Linked DNA regions of Homo sapiens. The protein of the gene in region 2 interacts with the protein of the main gene of each other region in a pairwise test. Each region holds a gene or a part of one and is shown on either strand. Other genes may lie near its edges.

Evidence for each region.
Region 1: the proteins of NUP133 (region 2) and AAAS interact in a two-hybrid assay, tested with the Homo sapiens proteins (one study listed by IntAct).

Annotation. Positions count from the first base shown.
Region 1 is NC_000012.12:53,318,481-53,326,130, forward strand, and holds the start of AAAS (aladin), read right to left. Parts: upstream 3,131-7,650; 5' UTR 2,986-3,130; coding exon 2,863-2,985; intron 2,213-2,862; coding exon 2,085-2,212; intron 1-2,084. UniProt on the Homo sapiens protein: Plays a role in the normal development of the peripheral and central nervous system.
Region 2 is NC_000001.11:229,439,708-229,442,585, forward strand, and holds the end of NUP133 (nuclear pore complex protein Nup133), read right to left. Parts: intron 2,334-2,878; coding exon 2,197-2,333; 3' UTR 552-2,196; downstream 1-551. UniProt on the Homo sapiens protein: Involved in poly(A)+ RNA transport. Involved in nephrogenesis.

The DNA.
Region 1 (7,650 bases), on a different chromosome or scaffold from region 2:
GGGATTACAGGCATGAGCTTCCGCGCCCAGACTATCACTGCATTTTTAGATGAGAGAACAAAGGTGTGAAGAGGCTAATTAATATGAACAAGGTAATCTAAGTAGAAAGTAGCAGTCAGGATTCAACCATCTATCTACCCCAGAACCTATACTCAAACCACTTTTTCCTGAATGAGTAATATGATCATTCCTTAAAGTGAACCATCCAGAGAAGCAGATTTGGAGAGAGAAATAAAGAGACTGGATTTGAGCATGCTGAATATATGAAGTCTGCGAAATATTCAAGCAGGATAATTTGGCAAACACGTGAACACCAGGTCTGATGCATCAACTGGAAATCTAGCCCCAAGAACACCAACATTTAAGGGACATCAGGAAGAGGAGCCACCAAAAACCCTGAGAAGCAGCAGCCACAGAAGTAGGAGACAAGGAGCCTGGGAATGAATGGCTTTTCAACAAACTGATATTCAACTTCACACACACAGGCATGCCCATTAAACTGTACTGAAGTACCAAAGATCAAAGCTTGACAGCACATGTGTTGGAAAACAGGCACTCCCATACACTGCTGGTGGGACCATATACATGTACCATTTTGACAGAGGGCTATTTGGAACAGCTCACAAAATTACAGATGAACATACCCTCTGAGCCAGCAACTTAATTTCTAGGAATTTATCCTACAAATGGTAATGGTATTAATAAAAATATTAAGTAACCCTTTTTTTTTTTTTGAGACAAGGTCTCACTCAGTGCCACTGCACTGGCACAATCTTGGCTCACTACAACCTCCACCTCCCAGGCTCAAGTGATCCTCCTATACATAAGCCTCCCAAGTAGCTGGGAATAAAGGTGCATGCCACCATACCCAGCTAATTTTTGTACTTTTCTTGTAGAGAAAAGAACATGGTTTCGCCATGTTCCCCAGGCTAGTCTCAAACTACTAAGCTCAAGCAATCTGCTGGCCTCAGCCTACCAAAGCGCTGGGATTATAGGCGTGAGTCACTGTGCCTGGCATAAATAACCCTTAAAGGAATTAATATGTGCCATTAATAGGTCCAGGTGCAGTAGCTGTAATCTCAGCACTTTGGGAGGCCAAGGCAGGCCTGAGGTCAGGAGGCCAGACCACCCTGGCCAACATGGTGAAATCTCATCTCTACTAAAATACAAAAAGTTAGCTGGGCGTGGTGGCACATGCCTATAGTACCAGCTACTCGGGAGGCTGAGGCAGGGGAACTGCTTGAACCAGAGAGGCGGAGGCTGCAGTGAGCCGAGATCGCACCTCTGCACTCCAGCCTGGCAACACAGCAAGACTCCGTCTCAAAAAAAAAAAAAAAAAAAAAAAGAAAAAGAAAATGAGCCGGGCGCGGTGGCTCACGCCTGTAATCCCAGCACTTTGGGAGGCCAAGGCGGGCACATCATCTGAGGTCGGAAGTTCAAGACCAGCCTGACCAACATGGAGAAACCCTGTCTCTACTAAAAATACAAAATTAGCTGGGCGTGGTGGCACATGCCTGTAATCCTAGCTACTCGGGAGACTGAGGCAGAAGAATCGCTTGAACCTGGGAGGTGGAAGTTGCAGTGAGCTGAGCACGCCACTGCACTCCAGCCTGGGCAACAAGAGTGAAACTCCATCTCAAAAAAAAAAAAGAAAATGAAACCAGGTAGTGTAGCTCCACTCCTACAAGTGCAAAGTGGATGACCTATGTAGGAGATTATTCAGTGCAACCTTATATCTGATCTTGCTGAGCTTCAGGTAAAAGCTCAGAAGTGGTAATGCCATGAGGTGGGGGCAGGGAGCAGGTTCACCTAATCAAGCCAGAAAGCAAGGCAAGTTACTAGAGATGAAATGGAAGTACTTTTTCCATAGTGTTCCTGGGAAGGGCAAGGAAGGGAACCTGACATTTATTGAGCATTTGAGTTCTATAATAAGGACTAAAAATTTCATATGATTTAGGATATACAGCTCTCGTGGAGACAGCCTGAATAAAAGTCTTTTGAAGAACACCCCAAGGTAAAGGGGTGTTGACTCATTTTCCAGGATCTGCAGACTGTGACCCAGGAAACCCTTTGCCATGCCTCACCAAATGTTGATGCATCTCTTCCACACTTGCTCCCGGTGATGGATGAAGGCAGTTCTTGTGCCATGGTCCAGCCTTCCAGGGGTCTTTAGGGGATCCTTTGTCAGTTGTAGGACAGGAAGATTGATCCACTATAGCACAAAAGTGAGGAGTGTGACGGTGATTCAGTCTCTTCCCAAATCTTTAATTCCGTGCCATCTCCAACCCACCGCTGGGCTAAGTATAAGAGATTCCAGAGGTCTGTTTCCCATTTCCACAAAGCTAACACTTGTGAGAATGGGAAACAAGTCTTAGCTCCCGTATCTGTGCAACTAGAATAATATTTCATAGGGTTGCTGTGATTATGAAACCATATGACATTTTTAGAAAACACCTGACTCAGCCTCTTTCTTACATAGCAAACGCTCAATAAATGTCAGTTTCCCTTCCTTGTCCTTCCCAGGAACACCATGGAAAAAAGTTCCATGTTGTATCCTTCTGATCCTCCCCAGATACTGTCCCCAACTTTTAGATAGTTCTCCCGCATCCTCACACTCCCTAGATTCTCCCTCATTCTCTCCATTCCCTCTAGGCCTCCTCCACAGCTCCTTAACCGTTCCCCCGTTATACTCCAATCCCAGTCCTAAAACAGATTCCAGCCCTTCTAGCCTCCTGCCGGGGCCAAGCTGTTTCCACTCCGCCAGACTCTGTGACCCTGCCCCTGTCACACTGCCTCCTTTCCCCAGTAGTCCCCGACTCCGCCCCCATGCCTGTAGGTCCCCTCCCTCCTCGCCCTGGCCACCTGGCCCCGGAAGTCGGGGGGCGGGCTCTCATAGCTACTGCCCGTCACCAGCTCGTTATTGTGCTCATATAGGGTGACTTGACCCCGAGGCGGTGGAGGAGGGAACAACCCCAGAGAGCACATCTTGCCGGTTCGCAGGACGTCTGCAGTCGGCAAACTCCTGGCCGGAACGGCACAGACCGCACTCCCGCAACTCGGTTCCCGGGCTAGATTCGTATGCGGACGGGTACCGCAAGGGACAAACGGCGAGGCGGAACTCAACGGAAGTGAAGAAAAGACTAACGGGAAAGAAGGACGAGTACGCGGTCCCGGGACAGACCTCCAAAGCTTCTTCCTGCGCCCCCTGGCGGCCGGAGGGGGAGCAGCGCGGACACGTCCCCCGGCCAACCGTTGGTTACCAGGCTGGAGTGGGGTTTTTTTCTGTTGTTTTCCATGAGACTACTGTTTTTCCCAGCTCCGAATTCCCGAACACCTTCTCCCACTCACTATCTTAGCGCTTAGAAAGCCCGAAATAAGCCACATTCAGGGAAGTACCAAATTAATCCTCCCAGGCCTGTGGATCACCCAGAGGAAAATACAGGCTATGTCACAGGCAGCTGGCTGGAAAGCTGAGGGAAAAGCCTCAGAGAGGAGGAACAGTGCTGCACCCACACGGTTAGGCGTCCTGGAAAGGGAGGTGGGGACGGTTGGAAAACTAACATTTCCTGCCAGGCGCGGTGGCTCACGCCTGTAATCCCAGCACTTTGGGAGGTCGAGGTGGGTGGATCATCTGAAAGGAGTTCGCAGACTAGCCTGGCCAACATGCTGAAAACCCCATCTATACTAAAAATACAAAAATTAGTCGGGCGTGGTGGCGGGCACCTGTAATCCCAGCTAATCGGGAGGCTGAGGCAGGAGAATCTCTTGAACTCCGGAGGGGGAGGTTGCAGTGAGCCAAGATCGCACCATTGCACTCCAGCCTGGGTAACAAGAGGGAAACTTCGTCTCAAAAAGGAAAACTTTATTTTATTTTATTTTTTTGAGAGACAGGGTCTCGCTCTATTGCCCAGGATGAAGGCAGTGGTGCTATCTCAGCTCACTGCAACCTCTGCCTCCCCGGTTCAAGCGATTATCCTGCCTCAACCTCTGGAGTAGCTGGGATTACAGGCATGCTTCACCACGCCCAGCTAAGTTTGTATTTTTAGTAGAGACGAGGTTTTACCATGTTGGCCAGGCTGGTCTCAAACTCCTGACCTCAAGTGATCTGCCTGCTTTGGCCTCCCAAATTGCTGGGATTACAGGCCTGAGCCACCTTGCCGGGCTGCAAAACTATTTCCTGAGCACTTGTTACGATAAGTGCTTTTATAATCTTTACAACCCCATAAGGTGGGTGCTGTTCTGTCACCATGAGGAAAGTGAGTCACAGAGAGATTGGACCTAGATACACCCAAACCAGTTATTCTCACTTAAGAATAAAAGTAAGGCTGGGTGTGGTAGCTCACACCTGTAATCCCAGCACTTTGGGAGGCCGAGGCTGATCTCTTGAGCCCAGGAGTTCAAGACCAGCTTGGGCAAAATAGCAAGACCCTGTATCTACAAAAAATTCAAAAGTTAGCCAGCGTGGTGGTGGCAAGCGTCTTTAGTCCAGCTACTCAGAAGGCTGAGATAGGAGAATCCAGACTACAATGATCCAAGATAGCACCACTGCACTCCAGCCTGGGTCAAAGAGCGAGACCCTGTCAAGCAAGCCAGAGAGAAAGAGCCGGGCGCGGTGGCTCACGCCTGTAATCCCAGCACTTTGGGAAGCTGAGGTGGGCTGATCCCCTGAGGTCGGGATTTCGAGACCAGCCTGACCAACATGGAGAAACCCCATCTCTACTAAAAAATACAAAACCAGCCAGGCATTGTGGTGCATGCCTGTAATCCCAGCTACTCGGGAGGCTGAGGCAGGAGAATCCCTTGAACCTGGAAGGCGGAGGTTGCAGTGAGCAGAGATCGCGCCACTGCACTCCATCCAACCTGGGCAACAAGAGCGAAACTCCGTCTCAAAAAAAAAAAAAAACAAAAAACAAAACAAAACAAAAAAAAATGGGAGGGAAGGGAGAGGGAGAAAGAAAGGAAAGAAAGAAAGAGAATGGGGGCCCCTCTTACAGACTTTGGAAAAAACATTGAATTCTTTGAGTCTCACTTTTCTCATTTGCAGTGTCCTAATTATTTCATATGGTTGTTTTCCATACAAAATAATAAAATGAAGCTATTTAATAAATTTTAAAGTGCTAAACAAATGTCAGAGGTTAATAGCTATAACTGTGCCATCAACTAGGTGACCTTGGTCAGAGTTCATTAACAAATGTTAAGTGATTTGAAGATGTAGAAGGCTGTCCCCACTCCCAAGAGCTACCAGTCTCATTGAATAATCTAGGGGGCATTTAGTTCTAGTATTCTGGATTCCGTGTCTGCCCTTCTTTTTCACCTGAAAAATTCCCCCCAAGAGAGTTATTACCAGGTCAGAAAACAAAGGGCTCCAGAGTCTCCTGAAAATGCACTTCACCTGAGAAGGCAAGTGGATCTCCTCTAATCTAGTACTTCTCAACTGTTAAGGGACATAGGAATCACCTGAGCATCTCCTAAGGTGGCGCTCAGAGGCTATAGTTCCAAAGAATCCCCAGCTGATACTGCACAGACCACATTTTAAGTAGCAAGGCTCTAACCTAGCGGTCCCCAACTTTTTGGCACCAGGTTTAGTGGAAGACAGTTTTTCCAGGGGGAGCGGGGGAGGGAATGGTTTGGGGATGAAACTGTTACACCTGAGATCATCAGGCATTAGTTGGATTCTCATAAAAAGCGGGCAACCTAGGTCCTTCACGTGCGCAGTTCACAACAGAGTTCGCGCTACTATGAGAATCTAATGCCGCTGATCTGACAGGAGGCGGAGCTCAGCTTGCTCAGCTCGTCTCCGGCTGTGCGGTTCCTTTACAGGCCACCGACACGACGGGCCGTGGCGCGACCCCTGCTCTAACCTTTTCCCATAGCCCCATTTAATTTCCTATGTGAGTTCACCGTCACCTGGGAAGTCACAGAAAGCTTGAAGAACATAAGGTATACACTGGGGATGGTTTGGGGAACCTGGCTGGGAAAGCCTCCCTGAGAAGGGGAAGTGGGCAGGTTTGAGGGAGAGGAAGTCGGTGACTGACAGATTAGTGGAGAGCACTGAGGACCCACGATAGTTTCCGTTTGTACCTTAGTCGTAACACCATCCAAACCCAGATACCCCTAGGAAAAATCACTCCGGCCTGCAACTTGCATCCTTCGATGAAACCTCGATTTTCACCATCAGGTTATAATGATCGGTTAGGTGCCTGCTTCTTACCCTGTAAGGTGAACTGGAGAGAAGGAACAGTGCTGTTCCGCCCGCTGCCCCCGCCCTGGCCTGGCACAAGTACTGTCCCCTCCTCCATACTGCTTATTTAACGTTTGTGGAACGCTTTTCACCATTTGCGGGTTCTAGAAAGGCCCAAGTCCAGGCCCGGCGCGCTCACCCAGTAACTTCACCAGGGGGCGCGGCTGGCCAGGCAACGCAGCGACCGTGACCCACGCCCTATGGGCTCCGAGCGCTTAGCGGGCGGTCTCCGCCGGCCCCTCCCTACGACCTGGGCGGGAACCGAGAGAGCGCGCAGGCCGCTTCTAAAAGGGGCCCCCTACTTTGGGAGTCGTCACCGGAGCCTGGGTGCCCGGAGCTCCGCCCGCTACCCCTTCCCGGGCCCGCTGGAGCCCGGCGTCCCGACCCGGGGCCGGTAACCAGGCGCACATGGCCCGCCCGGCCCTGTTTGTCCTGGCAGCGCGCCGCCGCTATTTGAAGCGGTTTTTATCTCCCAGAAACCAGCAAAACCCCAAGCGGAGTCTAGGGAAGATGAAAGGGGCCGAAGGGTTGGGGAGGGGAGGACCGCGAGGCTGCGGCGGGCGGGAGCTGGCACCGGACAGGCGGAGACCGGGAGGCGAGAGGGCCAGACTCTGGGGGGTCCGGAGGAGCCCGCCCGGCGGGGTTGAGGCGGGATCCCGGGGTTCCACTCCAGGCCGCCGCCTCGCTCAGACCAGCTCCAAGGCGCCCCCCGCCTTTCCTCTGCCCCAGCCCCCTCTCCCGGGTCTCTTCCGTCACAGCCCCCAGCCCACTAAAGAAGTCTTCGGAACTCGGATTTCTTCAAAGCGCCTTTGAAGTCGCGCGCCCAGCCGGAGGGCAGGAGATTTCGCACCTGGGCGGGGGCGGGAGTGGCGTCAGGGTGGGGAGGGGGCTCGTAACCCGAGCCCCCCCAGGATCGCCGGCCCCCTCCCACCCGTAGCAGCCCCTCTTGCGACCCGTGCGGTGGACAGTCCGACGCGGGGCGCAGCTGGGAGTCGGGCCCAGGCCGGGGGGAGCGGCCTGTGAGCCCCCTCAGCCCAGCGGGGTAACCTTGGGGGGCGGGGGCCGCACAAAGCCCTATTGTGGCTCGGGGATGCTGCCACAGAGTGGTTTTTGTTCTTCGGCTAACTCCGTGGCGGGCACGACTGATTGCAGACCCAGGGCAGGGGGCGGGTTACGTGCCAGGCCCAGTCTGCCCGCCGGGAGCCGCACCACCGCCCGACTGGGGCCGCGCAGGAGTCCGCACTGCAACCGCGGTGCCCGCGCTCGGGTCGCGTCACTGCCCTGACCAGGGTCAGTTGGTGCAGTCCAGAAAGGGCCAGGGTAGAAACCAGTGAGTCTTCCCAACTCTGCAGAAAGCACTGCACGCCCAAAAACTGAACACCGCTGGAGGATTTGACCGAGAAACAATT
Region 2 (2,878 bases):
ATGTCAGGAACAGGCTACACTGCTTTTGTAGTTAGCCTCAAAATGTCCAGGTGTGTAGGATGTAGGTGGGTGATGGTAGGAAAACTACGATTCAGCCCCTAAAGTAAAAAAAGAAACACAGTTCAATCATTAAAAATGAAAGCCCTCAAAGAGAGGCGTCAGTAGCCTTTACCTCACTCAGGAGTTCAGCAAGTTTTTACTGTCTATCTCCAGGTCTGCTGCAATCCTTGACACCATTCTGTCCACAAATCCTCCAGACGCGCCAGTCTCCATGCCTGCGTACACTCCCCTCTGCTCAGGATCGCACACGACACTTTACTCTTGTATTCTGTCAAGGTCCCAAGCTGGGACTCTCAGGGCAGCACTTATAGACAGGTGTGATCACGAACCTTTTCCAAGTCAGTAAAGTATCTCTTTCCACAGAAATGTCAACACAGCATCTGTATACTTATCAGCTACTTGATTTATATAAAAACCATTAATAACTCGTTGATGAAGACTACGTTGTGAAACCAATTTTTAAAATTCTAGAGAAAAAATTATTCAAAATCCTAGGTCTTAATTTCATTTTTACTGTTAAAATAATTTTTAAAAACTCAACCATTTGGGTGTAATAGCTACTAACTTAGAGAGAAACAGGATTAAAAGAGGGAGCTTTTTCTTCCCTTGAACAGGATGACTCTACTTCACACGGTAAGAGCAGTCGTTCTACGTCCACGCGATCAGTGGGTTCTGGGGCATGATCAGATGGGCTTTCCTGCGGTACTGTCCCATACACCAGGGATCACCAGGTTTGCAGCAGCACGGGAGGGAGATGGGAGCCTGTGTGTCTCGCAGCACATTATCACCCGACAGGGTCCTACAGGTGAGACGTGAACACTGACAGCTGACCTCCACGTAAAAGCAAAGCCTCATCTTACGATACAAGTACTCAGCGGTTTCTTACTGGCCATCTGACAAGCTGCTCTTCCTAACTTCTCTTAGTACCTTCCAACATGTTCCTAACCCAGACCCTAATGCTGTCCTAACATACAAGCTGCAAAGAGAAAAAGAACAGGCTGCTAATTTCTTCCCTTTGATTTACAAACAGCTCCATTAACCTGCTCTTCCAAACATACTCAAGGGCTGGCCTTGCAGCCTGCGGGGGAGACGGCCTGATGCTGGGCTCTGTGAATCCAGGAACCGGACTCTTCACCATGTTTAACTTCTGACCTTTTCAGCTGCTGGAGCAAGATGGTTAGTGGGCATTCTACTGGGCCAAGCCGCGGACATGCCAGCAACTCCCTGTCCAACCTCTGGCCTTTATTTAAAACCCAGATAAACATTGAGTGAGTGATGACACTGGTCAGGACAAAGCTCTGAGAGTACAGTACCTTTCAGTCACATCAATTGCCATATTAGGAAAACCTATAATGGTTTCTAGTATCATTCATGCTTTTGACTAGCTAGGCAGACTGTGGTAAAGATTCATGAGTCATTCTGAAAATACATGAGGCTGGCTGAATCCCCACACTGAAAGATTAGAACTAAACATCAACAGTAATTTCTAGATAGGTTAGAAAACCACATAAACGTTTCATTCACTAAAATACTTTCATTAGTGCTCATTTATTATTTATGTAGAAAAGTTTAAAATGCTCCCAATGAGTTCATCAGTTATCAAGCTCACATGAGTTAGGCCCACTCTCCTTTGGTTTTTCATCTCATAATAAGTCAGCAAAAGTTGACATTTATCTTACTAGACATTTCCCATTAGCCCTAACTGAAACAGATATCAAACACCCTAGATTCTCTTCAGTGCAAAGTATCTGGAGTCACAGCAATTTTAGAGACAAGCTAGTGCAATCTAGTAATTTTCATAGTCGCAGAAACTGAGGCCTAGAAGTGATTTGTACATGTGAGCAGCTAGAACCAGGACAAGAACTCCAGAACCTGGGACCACGTGAGAGTAAAAAGAAAGGGCACCGAGTACAGGAACAACAACTGACACATTTCAGGTGGAAAAAACAAGTCACATAACTGAAAACCAAAATCACAGTTACATAACTATTTTATATTAGCTTCCTACATATAAAGTATAAAAACTCAGCTATACATGTTATGAAATTGTACAAACTTACACTTGTTTATGGCCTAAAATTTGTATAAGGACACACTTATACAGATTTCATAAACAATGGCCATTTTTAGAAAAAGTTATATTTGTCCCTGAACATAATATTCATAATTTGCTTTCAAAACAAACTCGAAGTAAGGATTGGACTTTAAGCTTCCAAGCTGATCCGCTTGTAGCAGGTCTTTCACCTCCGGTAAGTACTCACTGAGCTGAATGCCTATAAACACAAACACAAGAAGTCATTTTTCAATTATTATAAAATGCTCAAATGAATTCTGATGATTGATGACAAAAGCACCTGTGCTTCTATTTAAATATAACGTCACTTTGCTGTTGGGAAATACTCTCTTCTAAATTCCTTCCATCTGTCAAACATACTTTCAAGTCTAACAATGTGATATCCTTTACAGGGGCTGCCTGAGTGTTTTTCCCTCCAGTGGTCAAAATAGCCATTCTATTTAAAGTGTTTAATAAGATCTGAAACGTTTTCATGTATTCCCAAGCTTGAAAACAAGTATTTCAAACACTTATATGATCCCCTATTTAGGGAATAATTTAGTAGAAACACTGTTATGAACGCTAGCTACAGGATCTCAAAATGTGTTTACAGTATAAATCTAAAATTAGATAGGCAAAAGAATCATTTCTTCACAAGTCATCCATAGAGCTGAAAAGACAGTGAACATGAACTAAATGGATTGTTTGACATCTGTGTAGTTACAAACAAACATACACAATTTTCTCATTTGACAAATAGAGAAA